Linked DNA regions of Homo sapiens: regions 2, 3 and 4 are each linked to region 1. Evidence: fine-mapped expression QTL. A gene starts in region 1. Each other region holds a variant in brackets. All regions are shown on one strand. Distances are between the middles of the regions.

Region 1 (5,149 bases):
GTATTAGAATTCCGAAGAACATCAGCCAGGACTAGAAAAGCTGAGTTTCCAAGATAAAGTAGAATTTTAGAATAACCTTGATAGATAGATAACTTTTGCAAAATTGGAAGGGAAAGACATCCAGCAAAAGAAACTCTGGGAGCTAAGGATATGAGGCTAGATGGAGTAATGTATAGGATGGGTGATCATGAAAGAGATCAACAGAATTCTCAGTAGGTATATGAGTGAGCAGTGGAAATGGGAACAGGAGTTAGAGTTCAGAAGACTTGAACGCGTGGCATGGTAAGCTGGACTTGGAGCAGGAACAAAAGGTATGACCTGGGTGACCTGGTGAACATTGGAAGCTGCTCGGTTTGGATTTCTTGTCTACCATCTGCCTTCAGCAGAGGAAAAGTACAAGAACATGTGCAACCTGGTGTTCTAAAGCCATAGACATCAGCCATCCCAGCTGAGAGGCCCCAGGACAGGGGCAAGGACTCACTATATTTCTGAACACAGAACTGGGAACACAGTGCCCAAAACTGTTTGATCCGCTGCTGGTAGTCTCACACTGACCTCTCAACCCCAGTTACACCACAGGTCAAGCAAATAGGCATGGCCCAGAATCTCTAAACCTTCATCGCATCAACCCCATTCTCTGCCACCTACCAGATCAATGGGACACTGTTTTGGGGACCAAAGACACTGCTCACCTCTGCCCCACACTTAGGAAATAGGCCTTCATATTCTGCTGCTCAGCAGGCCTCACAGAGTTCAACACTAAACTCCTGTTGCAAAGAGCACCCAGAAAGAGAATGCACCAGCAGCACAGTCAGTCCCAGGCTCTTCCTGTGGGAGTCATCAAGAAACACAGTTCCCAGGGCCTCTACAGACAAAAGAATGACACCCAATCATCATGCTAGTTCTAATAGGGTCTAGAGATGTTTAATGGCATCACTGTGCCCCGTGAGACACAGAAGTCACAACAACTCATGAAAAGGAAAGTGTTCATTGAGATACTCTCTAGTGTTGACTTAGTTGAGCCTATTATTGTTAACCAGATGGTTACTGTCTGCATCAAACTGGCAATCTGGAGCAGCAGGCTTCCCCTCAGTGGTGCACTGCCATGGCCGGACCCCTCCCTGCAGTCTTCTCTCCTCAGATAAAATGGCAAGCCTCGTACTCTACCAACTGCAGACCAAAGAATGAAGAGGTTGGCACTCAAGAGATATTTTACTTCATAGACAGAGGAATGTCACCTCTGCACTGCGCTGAGCACCTTCACAATGAAAGATTCAGATCTTCAGATAACAATTTAAAAATTTAGATGTGTGTGCCTGCCAGGATCTAACTGCCTCGCTAGTTAGATCCAGCTCAACAAAAGTACTTAAAATCTTTTCTGCTGGTTCCTATTTCAAAAGAAATCCCTGATGGAGGAAGCACAGACCTTCCAGTATCACTCATAAACTTTTCAATACAAATATGAAACTCAGTTCAGAGCAAGTATCATCTGACTGGGTTTCTCTCCTTCATCCCTGAATGTGTGTGTATACAGGCATACACGGCGTGCACGCGCGCACACACACAGCCATCAGCATGGCATGCTTGCTGAAGATTCAAGCACTCCTGCGTGAAAATGCAAGTACACTATGTCAGGTCAGCCCCACTATGACATCAAAAACCCCCCACCAAAGAAAAAACACCCCGGGAAAGGAGCCAGGAAAGGGAAACGCCTCCTTGAAACAGCCTGAGAAAGGCAATCTGATTCAGCCTGTGCTGAAACTATTCCCGAACACCAGCCAGGAAGTCCCTTCTTTCAGGGTGCTCCGCTGCCTAGCAAACCCAGACCTGCCTTTGCGGAAGCCAGATCTCTGGAGATTCAAGCCCTGGAACGGGTGATTTGGAAAGCGGCTTTCCTGCTCTTGTTCTGGCGCCCTTTAAGATCCATCAGTGGCCAGGTCTTCCAACTCTGCCTAGCCAATGCAAACACAAAAGCTGGTGGCTGCACCGCAAGCACACATACACTTACATACACACACAACACAGCACACACTTATACATACATACCTTTCACCCTCCATTGTGTGAGGCCCAGCCAGGGTGGTAGCTGCTGAACTGTGTATGCACTCGGGGATCCTAGTTCTGTTCTTGATTCTCCCAGCAGACCAGTGGGAAATCTGATCAGCAACAGTGATTCAGCATGGCTGCAAGTGAAGCCTCCTCCCTTCTCAATCCTCCTTCCTCTGACTTACTCGCAGCAGCTTCTACCGCAAAAGCAGCAGCAACAGAAAATGTCTTACCCAGAGCTCCCTGCAGCCCTTTCAGCTGCTAAAAGCAGCAACCCACTTGCTCCCCCTCCCCCGCAGGCTTGCTGCTCCTTGGTCTCCTAGGAACGGCGGCAGCTCCAGCGACCCAGGTGCACTGCCACCTTTCCAGCTTCCTCTGCATCTGCCCAGGCATCCCCAGCCCAGGCGATTAGCCCGCCCCTGGGGCTCCTGCCTCCTCTGTCTAGGCTGCAAAGAATCAGGCAGTTCGTCACTAGCCCGAGAAATACTGGCCCCTACACCCTCCCCTGCTCCCATAGGCTATGAGTCTGTCAGCCTGGCCAGATTGCTGGAATGAGGAGGCCCCTCTGTGGCCTGCAGTGGAGTTTATCATCCACCTGGGGAAATTCACTTGTAGGTCACAGTTTATGTTCCAAATCCTCCTCCCAAATTCTGTAGTAGCTCTGAGTGTCTGATAGATGGGGAGAAGTTAAGGGAAAAGCACCTGACAGAAGTGAGAAAAACACAGAGAGAAATTAAGAGAATACAGAGAGAAATTGGAAAACTAGTCGAAAAAGAGAGGTAGTACAAATAGGTGAAACTGAAACAAACCCTATTTTACTGCAAGAGGCCAAAGACTACTGCAGTAAAGCTATCACAATGAATACTAAAATATCTTAGCACAATCCTAAAATATCTTCCTAAAATCTGTCATATTGGAATTTAACTTAAGCAGTGGCTCCAACTAGTAAGTCTCCCACTGAACCCCCATATCCAGCCAAAGATCTTTCACATCCTGTAATCTCCAGCTGCTGAGCTTCAATTTAGACTAATTTAACTCTCCCTGCCTGAAATGCCTTCTCCAATCCCAGTCCTTTAGTCTTTCTGGGAGTCCAGTCAAATCCCATGTCTTCATAAAACCTTCCCTAATCACACCAATGACAGTCAATCACCACCAAAATACACAAACTATACTTTCCTGTATCGTCATCTCACACCTAATATACAGTCTTGGCTAATTCATTATTTATAAATCTTCTTTCCCAAACTAAAACATAATCTTGTGGAAGGCATGAGGCCAGTCTGTATATCCTAGCCACAGAGGCTTAGAGGTAACTGGGACAATTAGCTGCAAAAAGTGGTGCAGAAGCTATCCTAATGCCTCAGAAAAAAATCAGCTATGAGCATCTCTCTTCTGGGACACCTCATGGCACCCCTGGGCTTTTCCGAATCCACACCAGCACTCACTGGGTGAGTGACTTTCCTGAGTAGTGTTCTCCACACTCTGGACCTCATGCTCAGCTACTCATTCACAATATAGGGTCAGACCAGACAATCTTTAGAGTCCCTTTCAGCTCCAAGATCACAGGATTCTAAAAATGTTTTAAATGGTCCGTTTTTCTTCTCAGAGTAATCCGTGTGATTGTTTAAGAAGAAATACTAGGCTCCAATGTGTTGTAGGGGGCTTCAAGGAGGATAACATGATGTAGGTGAAAGTACGAAGAGACGCTCAGTAAATCTATCATCCTTATCATTTTAACCTGTTAAATTTCTTCACTACTACAAAGCCCTAAAACCACAGAAGGAAGAGAGGAACACTGAGGTGACAGAAAGTAAAAGTAACTAAAACTTTATATAGCCTCCTGAACTCAAACTGGCTACAGGGTTATTCTCAAAGATTACCTCCCCTGGCACCTCAGTGTTCTCTTAGACAAGGCCATTACTCACACTCACTCTTTCTCAAGTGAGAAGAGGCCTGGATAATTTCATTTACACCCCACAGGGCTGTATCTTCACTTCTTCCTTGCACAACAATACCCCTCATATCTTGTTCCCTCTATGTCCCTTCCTCCTCTAATCAGCCTTGTGGCCCTGCTCCAGATATTTCCTCTTGAGGCCAATCACAGGGACCACAAAAAGCTGAACATCACAAATAAGGAAACTGAATCTCGGAATCCGTGCCAGAGTTCAGACATCCACCAGGAACACAACTGGGTGATTCATAAAAGGGACATAAGAAAGAGATGACTCCTCCTTTGCACATACCCACGTTTACATATTCGCCATACAGGAAGGTGTGGAAATGCCACATCTAACAAACCAGACAAAGAAAAAAGATCAGAAAAGGAAATATGTAAGGGTTGTATGTATTCAAGTTTCAAAATATAACTATTAAGAGCCAGTATAAAACCCTGCTAAATTTCCCTGCAAAACCATACGACTACACCTTCATACTTTATTCACCACTCATGATTCACAGGAGGTAGACAGAATAGAGAACACTCAGAAGAGGCCATTTAGAAAAGAAAGGTCATCTTAAGCAAAAAGAACAAAACTGGAGGCACCACATTAACTGACTTCAAACTATACTACAAGGCTACAGTAACCAAAACAGTATGGTATTGGTACAAAAACAGACACATAGACCAATGGAACAGAAAAGAGAACCCAGAAATAAAGCTGTTCACCTACAACCAACTGATTTTCGACAAAGTCAACAAAAATAAGCAATGGGGAAAGGACTTCAATAAATGATGCTGGGATAACTGGCTATCCATATGCAGAAGAAACTGGACCCTATCACCATATATAAAAATTAACTCAGGCACAGTGGCTCATACCTGTAATCCCAACACTTTGGGAGGCCAAGGCGGGCAGATCACCTGAGGTCAAGAGTTTGAGACCAGCCTGGCCAACCTGGTAAAACCCCATCTTTACTAAAAATACTACAATTAGCCAGGTGTGGTGGCATGTGCCTGTAGTCTCAGCTACTTGGGAGCCCGAGGCAGGAGGATCACTTGAACCTGGGAGGCAGAGGTTATAGTGAGCCAAGACTGCACCACTGCACTCCAGCCTGGGTGACAGAGCAAGACTCTGTCTCAAAAAATAAAATAAAATAAACCCAA
Region 2 (5,149 bases), 63 kb before region 1:
GGAGTAAAATCTACATCTTCAAGAAACCCAAACCCTAGACTCATGCCACATAAAAATTGAGAGTTTGAACTGACATCACCCAGGTGGTATGGGAAATATCTAAGACAATATCTAATACAAAAACTGTTTCCTAAACCAGTAAACCTGCCCTACAGGGTCCACAGCCCAGGGCAACCTAGATTCCCAGGATATGACATCCTCTGAACATGAAGTCACAATCAAAAATTATAATTCATTTTGGAAATGAATTACCAAAAGACATATCAAAGATGCAAAAAATAGTAGAATATCTGGGACAACCAATGAAAGGTGGCTTAAAGACTCTACTCTATAATGTGTTCCTAAGGATACTAGATGCAGGAGATATTCTGTAGTAAAGGGGCTCAGGGGCCAAATGAGCCTAAGAAACACATCATACTGTATCCTCAAATATCCCTTAAAGGTTCACAAAGCTCATTACCATATAAAAGCTCTGACAACTCCTGTAGTAAAGAAACCTGGTTACTTTGTTCAGCCAGTGTCTCCTAAATGTATCTGACCTGAGAATGCTTAAAACAAACAAACAAACAAAAAAACCTGGCCAAGTGCTGTGGCTCACGCCTGTAATCCCAGCACTTTGCGAGGCTGAGGCAGGCGGATCATGAGGTCAGGAGTTCAAGACTAGCCTGACCAATATGATGAAACCCCGTCTCTACTAAAAATACAAAAAAAAAAATAGCCGTAAGTGGTGGCGGGCACCTGTAATCCCAGCTACTGAGGAGGCTGAGGCAGGAGAAACGCTTGAACCTGGGAAGCGGAGGTTGCAGTGAGCCGAGATCGTGCCACTGCACTCCAGCCTGGGCAAAGAGCGAGACTCCACCTCAAAAAAAAAAAAAAACAACAACAAAAAAGCCCCAAACACCTATAAACATCTTGTAATACTGTGTCTTTATGGGATACAGTTAAGCAAATACTGACCTGAAGAAGAAAGCTCTCACTCCTTAAATCTCTTCACAGACTCCTACCCCACTCCCAGCCTCATTTCCCACCATTCTCCACGGTCCTTGATTCTTATCACAGAGTTTACTTTTCTCCCCAGGTACGAGCTATTCCAAACTTCCAAGTCTTTAGTAGGAATAGTCCTACTATTCCTCCAACCTAAATGGCTTTCCAAAATTCTACCCTCATTCACCAAAGTTTAACTCAAAGACTCTCTTTTCCATGATGTCTTTCCTATACAACAACCTGGAATAAAATATTCCAGGTACTTTCCTTGAACTATAATTATAAGCAATTATTTCTCTTGGCCACGTACTATGGACACATGTTTTCAGTCCGTCTGCCCACCAGTCTATGAGCCCCTGAATAGAAATGACTACCTGTCACTCATCTCTGTACCCCTCATCAGGGTGGGGGTGCATTCATAAAGAGTGGGGCTTGGGAGGCAGACACACACAGCTTCACATCATGGAGCTATCTACGGTTAATGAGCTGTGTCACCTCTCTGAACCTTAGTTTCTTCGTCTGCAAAATGAAGACAATAATCTCTGCCTTGCAACTTGTTGTGAGGATTAGAAATGATGTTCTCTGAATGTCATGCTGGACAGGAAAAAATCAGACACAAAAGCACACACGCACCACTGTTCAATTTATATAAGCTTCCAAAATGGGTAAAACTCACCTAAGGTGTGAGAAGCCAAGAAGGTAGGTGCCCTTCCCAGGGTAGGGAGTAGTAACTGGAAGGGGGTTCTGGGGTTTGTTTCTTGACCTGGGTGCTAGTTATGTGGGTGTTTTACTTCGTAAAAAGTTTAGTTGTATACTTGATTTGTTTACTTCTCCATGAACTTACTTCAATACAAACTTCCTGTTTAAAAAAAAAATGATGAGTGAAACATACCTGGAGAACACTGGTTGGTCATGGTAGATTTGGGGGCACGGTGCTGTCATATTCTGTGCATGGGTAGTTATTGAATTCCACCATCCAAAGGAGAACAGTAAAAAGAGTAACGCCAAGGTAGGGCGTTAACAGATCACTGTTGTTGGCAAGCTGAGAAGCTGGCAACTCTGATAACCTCAGAGTAAGGCAGGGCTGCCAACAGCTCGGCCTAGGCAGCAGGGTACACCTGCTCAGTCACCTGGCAATGCCTCGGCAGCAATCATGCAAGCCCAGCCCACCGGCCAAGGCTCTCCAGCCTGCCTCCCACAGCCTGCCTCCCACAACCACCTTGCTGGAAAGGCAAGGAATTCAGACAGAAGGGCATGGAACACCAATGATCCTGGGAGACAAGGGCCCAGTCCCTCCCAAGAAATAAGATATCAAAATTTGGTCTCTAAAATGCAGTTTAAGGAGACAACAGCGCATTTTAAAATGTGATAATGCAAAGAGAAGTAACCTATAGTTCTTATTCCAGAACATACTTAACACTAATTTTTTAAAAAGACTTAATAAATTTCTTCCTGACCGGTATCTAAAATGCAGGCCATTTCCCTGTTAAGACTCACTCAGAGGTGTCTCTGAAAAGCCTCAATAGTGTTTCATAAGAAGGCAAGAGATCTTGAGATGGAGACATATATTTACCAGCTAGGAAAGCCAAAATTCAAAGAAGTCCAGTAACTTGCTAGGTCCCACAGCAATTCAACAGCAAAACTGCACTCGAACTCAGGAGTCATATCTCTTTCCTTAGAGTGGGTTTGTCCCAGAAGGTTGTTTATTCTGCCCCTGGGTCACTGGGTCACTGAGGATGTTCATGGCCAGAGCTGAACTTTGTGTCTCAAGGGGAAATACAATAAACATGCCGTCAGCTCACAGGCTTAGCCCTAACCCCTCAACACCCACCATGTGGAAGAATCAGATGCCTGGCTTTAATCTTCTTGTCTCTATCCTCAGGGTAGTGGAGTGTATGATAGATGCACCTGACAGCAATAACTTAAGCATACCCTGAGAATGACTCTACGGTCTAAGAAGAATGTGTGTTCAGTGTTCCACGCTAAGGAATCAAGAACCTGGAGATTCATTCCTTATCTATGAGGAACATCTGAACCCCAGCCCATCCTGGGAAATGCAGGCCATATAGGGGATTGAGGCCCTTTGTTTTGTGTTAAATGAAGGTTGCCAGGTGAAGGTCACCAGCAGGAGGGTGTTAAGTGAAAATGC[T/A]ATATAAACTGCATGCATTTTACAAGCAGTTGCAATTTCCTGTCCAGCCTGCCACCACTGGACAGCCCTGTACGTAAGTGCCCTCAATAAACCCTATGTCTTGTTCGCTGCCTCCGGGCCTCTTCTTCAACCTCTTGAACATGATGCCATCCCTATTGAAGTTAATAGGGGTCTGGCATGACATGAGGAAGGGGAAGGTCCTACACAATGAACTAGTGATTTTGTGTGACTCCCATCACATCCATTTGACCTCTCTCAATAACAAGAATTCTAAAATAAAAACCACATGAAGGAAAAACAAGAGCAAAAATGGCAAGGATTCATGCCCTCCCCTACCCTCTAATTCCCCTATCTGTCCTTACTCTCTAGAAAACTGTTAAAATTATTCCCATAACCTCAGCTGGCTCAGTGCAAACTCCAGCCCCAGTGTACCTCAATCCCTTGGGGGACATCTGCTGAGTCCTTCCGTGGCACCTCCTGGGGCACTGAGTCAGGTACTGCATGTGATACAAAGATGACTAAGGTACCCTCACAGCCCTCAAGGCATCTGAGGGCAGTAGAGGAGATAAGGAATGGGCAAAAGCAAGTGATGCTGGAAGAACAGTCTCTGAGCTCTGGGAGGGGCCCAGGCAGGGCTGGGGACACTGGGGAGCATGAGGTCACAACCACTCTCTGACCCTGCTAGGCACTGGGGCCCCAGGTCATGCCAACAACCCAGACCAACATGGGCACTGGGAAGACTCCCCCTTAGGAAAGGCTCCAGTCAACAGTTATGACTACTACTAGGAGCAGTACTAGTAGTAATAACCATAATAATAGCAGCAATAACAACAGTATCTTACAGTAATGAACACTTCTTATATTCTAAGCTTTTTTCATATATCATCCCATTTAATCCTCATAGCAACCTTACAAGGTAGATACTATACTACCATTACTCACCTTTTACAGATGAGAAAACTGAGCCATAGGGAGGTTCTTTTATTCGTCCTTTCAACAGCTATTTTTTTAGTGTCTACCATGAACCTGATACCACTCCAGCAGCGACAAGCAGACAGACAAAATTCCTGTCTATCTACTTGTATACGGTACATACATTCTTGTGGGAGATAAATAACTTGCCCAGGGTTCTCAGCTTGTTTAAGTAGGGAAGTCAAAATTCAAACTGAGCCCCTCTGACTGTAGAAGTTATACTTGCAAACTTACAAGATGAAAGCTGCCTGTTACTTACACTCATCATTAATAGTAAAATATTACATTTCCTCTATTTTAAGGCGTATGTGTTTTTTACATGTTAATGTCTGAAATCTGGCTTCATTTTATAATATATGTTCAAAGAAATCTGTGGGCTGCATGCAGAGTAAGTCATAATTGCCGTTATGCTGTTAAGTGTGGATTTAGTGGAACACCAGTTACTTGATTACCAACCCAGTTGGGTTTTCTGCAACTGTTAACATTATATGCAGTTGAATTTTAACTTAAGATCCCTAATATTACTTCAAATACATTTTAAAATTCCACTATAAAACAGTATTGAAAGGAAAGGTTATTATGCATGCAAGAGATTGCTTATCACACACAATGTAATTAAAGGGCGTAGAAATCACTAAATCTCCTGGAGCAGACACAGAATTTTCAAAGCCTAAAGGACTAGCATTAAAATGAAAAACATCTAATTGTCAGAAGCTTCCAGCTATTTAACTTCCAGCAAGACATGATCAATTATGGAGAAATAAAACTATGAGGTTAGCCAAAGAGAAAATGTAGACCAAGCCCCACTATTCTTTAATAAACCTCAAAATTACACTGCCAACCTTAAAGGTACTAAAGGGATCAAGATCATGAGTAATCTGCTTTATGAAAAGCAGCACATAATTCTGAAGTTACATATAAGTTCCAAGAAGCAAATATGAAATAGAACTTCGTTAATGTGAAAAATACCTATACTCCAAACTCTGGCTATACAGAAAGAGCAACTCATATGTAAGTATATGAATTATTGAGCAACACTGCAAA
Region 3 (5,149 bases), 45 kb before region 1:
CCAAAGGGAGAGCTCAATAAACACTAGCTAAGAATAATTCATCAGGATGTCTGCATACACAGACCCATAATGCAGACAGAACTCAATCACTATAACAGCAACAGGACCAAGGAGCACCAGAAAGATGGATGTGTTCCCAGCTGCATCTGCTGCACTCTCCCACAGATGAGTCTCATCATCAGATAGTGAAAGGGGCAAAGGAGAAAACACAGACGTTGAAAGTTGGGAAAAGCCAGGCCAGAAGAGCCTGGGAGCCCTAATAAAGGTGGGGATTCACATTAGAGAAATGCACATCAAAACTACCAAGTGATACCATCTCATACCAGTCAGGATGGCTATTATTAAAAAGTCAAAAAACAACAGATGCTGGCAAGGTTGCAGAGAAAAGGGAATGCTTATATACTGCTGGTGGGAATGTAAATTAATTCAGCTACTGTGGAAAACAGTCTGGAGATTTCTCAAAGAACTAAAAATAGAACCACCATTTGACCCAGCAACCCCATTACTGGGTATATACCCAAAGGAGAATAAATTGTTCTACCAAAAGACACATGCACACATATGTTCATTAAGCACTATTCACAATAGCAAAGACATGCAATCAATCTAGGTGCCCATCCACAATGGATTGGATAAAGAAAATGTGGTACACCATGGAATACTACGCAGCCATAAAAAAGAACAAAATCATGTCCTTTGCAGTAACATGGACACAGCTGGAAGCCATTATCCTAAGTTAATTAACACAGAAACAGAACACCAAATATCACGTGTTTTCACTTGTAAGTGGGCTAAACCCTGGGTGCCTATGGACATAAAGATGGGAAAAACAGACACTGGGGACTCCAAAGGGAGTGGGGGCAAGGGCTGATAAATTTCCTATTGGGTACTATGTTCACCATCTGAGTAATGGGATCAACAGAAGCCAAAACTCAGCATCACACAATATACAAACATAACAAACCTGCATATGTACCTCTTGAATCTAGAATGTAATTTTAAATTTTAAAAAAGGTGGGGATTCAGTATACTCCCCAAACCTCAGACAACTGTATCAGCCAATTAGGGTGGGATATGTGCTAGGTGTACACACACATGCATCACACACTATGTGGAAGGAGAGGGCTGGTAAGAGGAGACACAGAAGAAGGAGACAGAATTTCTGACATCTAAGCACTCTCCCTTTGCCACTGCACTAGCAAACGTTTGTGAAAAGAATCTGCAGGCCAGGCACAGTGGCTTACGCCTGTAATCCCAGCACTTTGGGAGGCTGAGGCAGGCGGATCACAAGGTCAGTAGATCGAGACCATCTTGGCTAACACGGTGAAACCCCATCTCTACTAAAAATACAAAAAATTAGCCTGGCGTGGTGGCAGGCGCCTGTAGTCCCAGCTACTCGGGAGGCTGAGGCAGGAGAATGGCGTGAACCCAGGAGGCGGAGCTTGCAGTGAGCCGAGATTGCACCACTGCACTCCAGCCCAGGCGACAGAGCGAGACTCCATCTCAAAAAAAAAAAAAAAAATCTGCAGAGAAAATGCTTGCCTTAGCACACCCATCCATCTAGAAAGTGACCTCTTCAAAGGCTTCACTGGGAGCCCTCCCCAGGAAGAGAAAGGGCTCCCTAAGTGAAGGTGGAAAGGCAGTGGAGAATATGCAGGGAAAAGAGAGCACAGGAACGGCAGAGAAGCAGAAGGGTCAAGGTTCAGAGCCAGAAAGAATCAGCAGGACTCAGAATTGAGGCTACTGGGTAATGTCCTTCACAAAAATCATCATATCAAGACTATCTTTACAAGTCTTCAGAAAGAAGACTTGTTTGTGCCTTCAGAAACAGGCTGCAGGGAGACATGAGAGTCTCTGCAGGCTCCTGGGGTCAGGGACTTAATCAGAGAGAAAAAGCATGCCAAGAAATGGAGCAAATGCTTGTTGCTTTGTTGACCAAGAGGCTAACACAGCACAGGTAGCTAGCTGGCAGGTGGGCAGCCAGTAGGTCCTCAGCTAATTTCCAGACACTGGCCAAACAGGAGACACGGAACAGAATAGCAGCCATGACAGTGCTTGAGCAGGGGTAAGAAGGAGGTGTTTTATTGCAAGGGAAGAAGGTGGCCATGACTGAATTTATCAAGTTAAATGATCAGACCTATTTCCTAGTCATTCACCATCTTTCTTCAGGCTGGAACAAGTGGCAATGAAGATTTCTTTCCAGCTAGCTAAATAAACATAATGGACTGAATATAAATGTTCATTTCTACTCCCTCCCAAAACCCCATTAAAATAATAGAATGACAAGCTCTAGTGCAGAGAATGTCTCCAAGAAAAATAAGTGAACCAACAGATTATCTGATGTATTGAGGACTGTTCTAACAAGAATTAGTGGTAGAACCATACACTATGCAAGAGAAAAAGACAATTATTAACTGCCCTTCTTATTAAAGTTTTCTGATTTAAAAAAACACTATAATTATAATAGATGGCTTAGTTCAGTTGTGGAAATGGTATTTGGACAATAAAGAGGGGGGTGGCTGCATGTGTATAAAGGGAAAGTCTGCAAAAGCTCAATCTTATTCTTCTGGAGAAGTCAACAAATAATATCTAAAACTAATCAAAAAATAGCAGTTGCACATATTATTTTGATAAATGGAAGTGAGTAGCAGATGAAGTAGCTTTTAGCTGGATCAGAACCTGCATTTTAATTCCTTAAGGATTGAAAATGAGTGGCTCTGGAGCACAAGACTCAGTGTGGAAAGGTGGAGCAGGGCACTCCTCATCGTTATAAG[C/T]CCTGCAATAGTACGTGACTTTTTTTTTTTTTTTAGATGGAGTCTCGCTCTGTCACCCAGGCTGGAGTGCAGTGGCGAAATCTCGGCTCACTGCAAGCTCCGCCTCCCGGATTCACACCATTCTCCTGCCTCAGCCTCCCAAGTAGCTGGGACTACAGGCGCCCGCCACCAAGCCCCGCTAATTTTTTTTTTTTTGTATTTTTAATAGAGACGGGGGTTTCACCGTGTTAGCCAGGATAGTCTCGATCTCCTGACCTCATGACCCGCCTGCCTCAGCCTCCCAAAGTGCTGGGATTACAGGCGTGAGCCACTGCGCCCAGCCAGTACGTGACTTTTAAAAGAATGTTTATGGAACGCTCAGATAAAAACAAAGCTTTTCTTAACAATAACAAGACGTAGCTCAAGACCTAGCTCAGTTTGCTCTCCCCACTCCCCAAATCTTCTTGGATCTCCTTCCTCTACTCTAGTGAAAATTACTGTCTGTACCATCCCCTTGGCAATTAATCATTTTCCACTTGGCAATGAGCTAAACTGTCCTATCATTAATTATCTTTCCACCTGTATCCCTAACTAAATCATAGCTGCTTCACAGCAGAGACCACTTCTCATAATCTTTGAGGAGTCTGCAGAAGACCAGGTGATTAGATCCACAAACTCGGAGGAGGTGCAGCAGTCCGGCTCCCCCTTACCTGCGTAGGCATTGGCCTGCTGCAGAAGGTCAGTGCAGGTGTGTACATCTGCAAATGCACGGATGCCCAGGCAATTGGTGGGATGCAACTGAGACTGCAGGAAGTCACAGCAGTTCTGCCGAACATCCATGAGCTGCAGCAAGCTGGCTGCCGGGAGCAGCACCTGCAAGAGAAGGTGACATTCTCAGATATTGGATCCCACTGGCAGAGACTCATCTGCCTTTTCCTATCATATCACTCCCATGCTCAAGATCTTTTCATGGCTCTCCACTGCCCGCCAGTAAGTCCAAACTTCCTAGCCTGCTTTCCAGCCTTATTTCCCACTACTCTGCCCTTCACGGACCCTAAACACCAGCAGATTCTCTGTATCCCTACAGCCATGCTTCCCAGTCTTTAATCCCTGGGGATCTTATTAAAATGCAGATTCTAATTCATTAGGTCTAGGATGGGATCTGAGAGCCTGCATTTCTAATAAGAACTCAAGTGATGCTTGCAGTTGCTGGTCCACAAACCACACTTTGAGTAACAAAACTCTACACACACACACACACACACACACACACACACACAATGGTTCTCATACTGGGCTGCACACTGGTATTACCTTAAGAGTTTTAAAACTACTGATGTCTAGGTCTTGCCCTAAAAGAATCTAACTCAATAGGTATGGAGTGTGGCCTGGACATTAAGATGTTTTTTAAAGCTCCCCAGGTGCTTCTAATGTACAGCCACGTTTGAGAGCCACTGTCCCACAACCTTCAGTGTACTGTCCTCATTCAGAAAGGTACTTAATGAATGATTAATTACTGAACATCTATGTGCCAGGCACTAGTTTAGGCTCTGGGATTCAGGGGTAAGCAAGAGAAACCAGATCCTGTTCTCCTGGAGCTTAGAGTCTACTGGAACAAGATTCATTCCAAATCCCTCAGGACTCAGGCAACGACACTTTATTCTCCCATCAAACAGATACAAAGCAAAGAACATCTTTAGGTACATTCTTAGAGAAAGGAGAGCTAAGTTTCCATTTAAAAGGTCACAGGACACATGACTATTTATACTATATCCTGAAAGACAGAAATAGTTCTTGCTCAGGTGTATATGCATGTGTTTTTCCTAAGGGTCAGGGAAGACTGGCTTGAGCAGGCCCGCTGGGTGCTCAGACAGCCAACCTCTATCAATTTTCCCTAGGACTTTCCCTCAGCTGCTGAAGCCTGCCTCTAGATCAAACATACAGGACAAAAGGCCAAAGTCCTGTCCCACTCCAGCTCTGCTACCCTGCCCTTCACCTATGGAAGCAGCAGGTAGTCTGAGAATGATTTTCCAAAAAGAAATTTAGAAAAAAAATCACACTACAGAATAGCTTGATTTAAGGCTGCTTATCTTGGGGACCCTGGCATCCACTTCACCCCAAAATAATCCCCTTGCCCCAGGCCTTTGCTCTCAGCTGCTGCCCTGGCTCTGAGAGAGTGACTGAGCCAGCTACACTCTAGCTGTTCCCAGCCACAAGGGCTTGCCCAGGAAGATATGGGCTGCAGATGCATTTGTTTTCTTGATTCAGGACACTTGAAAAAGACTTCTTTTTTTTTTTTTTAAGTGCTTTAAATTCTGGACTCTTTCTCCCAAGACAGCTCTGAGTCCTCAGCTCTGACTCTCATCACTTTTATGTACTCAGGCCAAAAACTCTGC
Region 4 (5,149 bases), 53 kb before region 1:
AAGATATCCCTTGGGACCAGGCACAGTGGCTCATACCTATAATCCTAACAGTTTAGAAGGCTGCGCAGGAAGATCATTTGAGGTCAGGGGTTCAAGACTAGCCTGGTCAATAAAGTGAGGCCCCTCTCTATTTAAAAAAAAAAATGTTAAGACATCCTTTGGGACTGCAGATCCTATGGGCAAGGCTGTGGACCTGCAAGATCTTAGAGAACAAATTTAATTCTATCGAATTCAACAAACTGTCCAGTGGTATAGGTTATTCAGTTCCTTGAGGCTGCAGGTTTCCCATATATTAAATGGAAATAATAATAGTACATAAGGTGATATGGGCATTAAATAAAGAAATAGATGTGACTCACATTTACTGAGTCCATTGCAGGTGCTAGATAACTCTTAACGTATGATGTATCAAATGCAGCATTTCTTCAAAAATGAAGAAACCAGAACTGATGTCTACAAGGACCCTACTGCCTCACAAGCAAGATAAGACAAGGCATCAATAACTCCATCCCAAAGTCCACCTCTCACATGACTGAGAGAGGTACTTTCAGTACAAACAAAGGCAGGGAACAGGAAAATTCAGAGCATATGTAAAGAACAGTAATAGTGAAGTCTAGCTAGAACCTAGGTGATGTCTTCATTCATCCAACAAAGGTTTGCTGAGCACTCCCTAAGTATGAGGAGCTCTGCAGGCTCTTGGAGATGCAATGGAGAGGCAGACAAGGCTAGATCCTGGGGGAGGGATGCATGTGCCGGGGGCATAGTACCTTTTAACCATGGGTTAAAAGAGAGTTATTATTGGAGAGTTAGCCCTTGAAGGGTAACTCTCCAATAATAACTAACTTTTCTTATCGTTTCGCTTCTTTTTCTTTAAGAGGGGTGGACACAGAGAAAAATAAGTCAGTTAATTAAGAGTTCTGGTTAAGAGTCCTAATTAGCCAGGTTTTACTATAAGTAACAAATATTGTTTAAGTTCCATGTCCTGATTGGTAAAACACAATGAGTATGTTCCTGTCCATATGGATGGGAAATTATGGAGAAGAGGAAGAGGCACCATATAACTTTCAGTCTTTTCCCCATCAAGCAACACAAACATATCTTCCCAATGTTAAAAGGATAATAAAATTTGGGTGATATATTCCCAGGCAAGGGCTTTCTCTGGGGGTACAGTTGGGTCTCGGAGACAGTTGAGGCCATTTCCTAATACTAGCTAACACCATTCTAAGCATTTTACATATATTATGTCTCTCAATCCCCGCAAAAGCCCTACTAAAGTGAGTATCAACATCCCCATTTTACAGATGGAGAAACAGAAGCCCAGAAACTCTAAGACAGGTGCTTAGGTTTACAGAATAGTAAACCTGGTAGAGCCAGGTTTTGAACCAAGACTGCCCAATTATAATAACAAATATTCTGATGAGTATCTTAGGTACCAAGATAAACACCTATCCTGAGCAGTCCACTGGGGTAAAATTCAACACAGACATCAGAAAACCTTAAGAATCCCTCTCAGGGGTGCTGGACATAGAGAGAGAGAGAGAGAGAGAGAGAGAGAGAGGCATAGACAGAGGATATGCATCTAAAAACCTTTCTTTGGGGAAAAAAGAGAATAATCTTAGTCCCTAAATTCCTAACTTCTTGGCATTTTGGAGTCAGTTCTAGGTTCAAATCTCAGACCTAACCCCAGAATTAAGATATTTCCCTAATCCCCCCATCCACTAGGCTAGAGGAAGTGATAGTCTTTGGGGTTCCCAAAGCCCCCCAAACAAGATATAACAATCATATCCCTAATCACCCTGCTTTATTACATGAATCTTTCTATTCTATTCGGACTGGGAGCCCCATGAGGTCAGGGATCAAGTCTGTGTTATTTGAAGCTGAATCCTCAGTCTCCAGCATAATATCTGTATATACCGAGCTCTAAAATTATTACTGCACTTTCCTGACTGTTCTTCAAGACTGCCTAGGGTTCAGGCAACCTCTCAAGCTAGCCCCAGGACTATTCTTCTCTCTTCACGGAATGAAATAAACCTAAACCTTTGATCTGGTTCATCTAACCTACAAGCTCAGAACAAATGGAATGATGACCCATCTGTGACTTCCTTGACTTTGCGGGGATTGAGAGACATAATATATGTAAAATGCTTAGAATGGTGTTAGCTAGTATTAGGAAATGGCCTCAACTTTCTCTGAGACCCAACTGTACCCCCAGAGAAAGCCCTTGCCTGGGAATGTATCACCCAAATTTTATCATCCTTTTAACATTGGGAAGATATGTTTGTGTTGCTTGGTGGGAAAAGACTGAAAGTTATATGGTGCCTCTTCCTCTTCTCCATAATTTCCCATCCACATGGACGGGAACATACTCATTGTGTTTTACCAATCAGAGATGAAATAAACCCCATAAGCCCCATAATTCCCAGGGCCAGCAGCCCCAGGGAACAGGTGTGAGTGCCTCTGAACTGAACCACAGGTCACACCCTCAGGAGACACTGGCTGACACAGGTGGACACACAAACAAAATGGAAACATTTTGGCAGGGTGAAAAAACAAAACCACAGAACTGCCTTAAAACTCTCTCTTCTGCCCCTTATTACTCTATTTTTAGAGGCCAGAGGCAAGCTTCCTTGAATCAATATTTAGCTTTCCAGGCTCACAGTTTCTCTGCTCTAGGGAAAAGGCTCAGTTCCCACAGGGAAGTAACAGAGACCCACCTTGACCTCTTCTCAGAAGGGTCATGACCACCAGCCCTCAGACTCTAAATATTACTACCTCCACACTCCCTGGGAAGGCAGGAAATAAGCTCTCTTTCCATGTTGCCTTACTCCAGAAATATTATGTGTTGTCCTCTCCCTCTCTTTCTCTCTCTCTCTCTCTCTAGCTCTCT[TTC/T]TCTCTCTCTCTCTCTCTCACACACACACATGCACGCGCACACACACACACACACATACACACAGCCAAGGGCCATAATAGTGCTATTGATTCAACAGTGAGGTTCCCCATAACCCAGAAAATGGAACAAGTGAAGTTTCCTAAAATCCTAACAAAGAGCAAGCAACGAAACCTATCTGTGTCTGCACGACTGCCTCATTTGCCAACTTCAAATTAGATGCAGAAAATCCAAGAGAGGCAGGAGTGAGGCAACCATCATAGAAAATAGGCTAGGCTGGTCTGGGTGGGTGGGAAATAAGTAGCGGGGCTTAGGACACAGACCTCTGCAGTCAGCTGGCCTCACTCTGGCACTGCCACTTATAAGCTGTTAATATATGATCTTGGACAAGTTACTAAACTTCTCTGGGGTTACAGTTTCTTCACCTATAAGCTGAGAAAATAATAACTCTTATACTTAAATGAACAAAATGAGGCCATGCCTATGAATCATGTAGCACCATTCCTGGCACCTAGCAAGTATTCAAAAATGATAGAAATGCCCATCATTATGATCATCATTATTTCATGGTGACAAGTTAGGAGCAGCAATTTTAGAAGAGGACTCTCACTGAGTCAGAGATTTATGTTTTTTAATGATTTTCCAAATTTTTCTGCTGCCTTAATTACTTCATTCCATGATCTCAAATGACTCAATCAATCAAAAAAAGGCCATTTCTCTCCATAAGCACGTGAAATCCAATGGCTTTTCCATCCCATGGCTGGAGGTTTTTGCTTAGCTTTGGCAGACTGATGTAAACAACATGTCCAAAGAATTTTAATTGCTATTTCATTAATGAAGTCCCATTAACATCCCTCCCAAACAGCTCTGCTGATGGCCCAGTGTATGGCTGTCCAATTACCAAACAACAAAGTCCCCATAACCCTAGGCCCTGGCCTCTGAGGTTAAAGATTAAGCAGTCCCTGGAAACAACAATAATGAGGTATAAGAAACAGGCTGTGAAAGACACTGGGGTCCATTTCCCAGCTACTAGTTGCCCAGGAAGACTGTGATGCCACTAGCTAAGGCAAGAGTCTGAGCAGTCAGCTTCTAAATGCGGGACCTACCCTCCCTACCCCAGAATAACATATATCATAGCAAAGATCTGGGGAACTTCCCTGAGGGGGAAACTGAATCCAGAGGAAGCAGGAGGGACTGCCACAGCAGGAAGAGACAGGGCCCTTCCAAACAGGAAACCAAATAGGCAGCTGGACATAGAGATGATGCTTCAGCCCCCACAAAGTTGTGCTCTCGCTGGAAAAGCCGAGGACCTATCAGAAGGCAAGACTGGCTTTAAAATAAAGTCACATTTGTTTAGACAGCAAGTTGGCAAAATCTATCAAACAACTTTTTAATGTACATTCTCTTTGATCCAACAACTATGCTACTAAGATTGTACCCTACAGGTATACTAGCAAGTGTACTCCAAAATATTATGTACAAGAATTCTCATGGAAGCATTTTAAATAAAAAAACTGGAAACATTAATGTCCATCAACAGAAGACTGGTTAAATAAATTATACTCCATCCATGAGATGCAGCAGACTAAAAGAATAAGATATAGCCATACACAAGGGTGTGGAAATAATTGCAAGATTTGTATTGTCAAACAAAAGTACAACGAGTACAGAGTGCTTTCTGTTGTGTAAGTTAAAAAGCATAATATATAAATTCTGTAAGGATACCAAGGATCTCCCCACTTCAGAGAGACAGGCTGGGAGAAGACTGGCTTTGCATTTTATACCTCTATGTACTGCTTGCATTTTTTGGTCATGAGTATAAATTGCTTTTATTGAATATATTACCTAAATGTTTCAAACAATGGTCTAGAAATGTATCTGCTAACATGGAAAGAAATTCAGAATATACTGCTAAGAATGTTTTTTTAAGAGATGGGGTGTCTTGTTATGTTACCCAGGCTGGATTCAAATTCCGTGGCTCAAGCTACACATGAATGCTTGAGCTATCAACCTCAACCTCCCAAGTAGCTGGGACTATAGGCACCTGCTACTGTACCTGGCTAAAATGTTTTTTAAGCTGGAAAGCATACATATACAATGAAAAAGATTTGGAAGGATATACATCAAGGTGCTGCCAGCAGTTCTCTCTGGGTAGGATTGTGGTATAATTCTTTCCACCCATGTGCTTTTTCTGTAATAGTCAGGGATGAGTTTTTATTAAAATAGCAATAATAACAACAACAACAATAACAACAGAAAAAG

What was found. PIP is the estimated chance that this variant, and not a neighbour inherited with it, causes the effect. A credible set is the group of variants that fine-mapping cannot tell apart.
Region 2: its variant is the best candidate, but not a certain one, in a credible set for the expression of KLHL3 in testis (GTEx, PIP 0.59).
Region 3: its variant is the best candidate, but not a certain one, in a credible set for the expression of KLHL3 in unexposed skin (GTEx, PIP 0.55).
Region 4: its variant is the best candidate, but not a certain one, in a credible set for the expression of KLHL3 in whole blood (INTERVAL, PIP 0.64).

The regions. Positions count from the first base shown.
Region 1 is chr5:137,733,587-137,738,735 of GRCh38, forward strand. KLHL3 (kelch like family member 3) reads right to left here and starts at 2,503. Exons shown (of 15, transcript NM_017415.3): 1 at 2,047-2,503. The coding sequence starts at 2,060. RefSeq lists enhancers at 701-770, 2,102-2,770.
Region 2 is chr5:137,670,110-137,675,258 of GRCh38, forward strand. The region is part of intron 6 of KLHL3 (kelch like family member 3); the gene reads right to left. Among named protein-coding and RNA genes, the nearest start is that of MIR874, 25 kb to the left of the region's middle. The variant T/A (reference allele first, on the strand shown) is at 3,134.
Region 3 is chr5:137,688,822-137,693,970 of GRCh38, forward strand. It overlaps KLHL3 (kelch like family member 3), which reads right to left. Exons shown (of 15, transcript NM_017415.3): 5 at 3,464-3,626. Among named protein-coding and RNA genes, the nearest start is that of MIR874, 44 kb to the left of the region's middle. The variant C/T (reference allele first, on the strand shown) is at 2,775.
Region 4 is chr5:137,680,878-137,686,026 of GRCh38, forward strand. All of the region lies in intron 5 of KLHL3 (kelch like family member 3), which reads right to left. Among named protein-coding and RNA genes, the nearest start is that of MIR874, 36 kb to the left of the region's middle. RefSeq lists silencers at 3,563-3,808, 3,783-4,077. The variant TTC/T (reference allele first, on the strand shown) is at 2,888.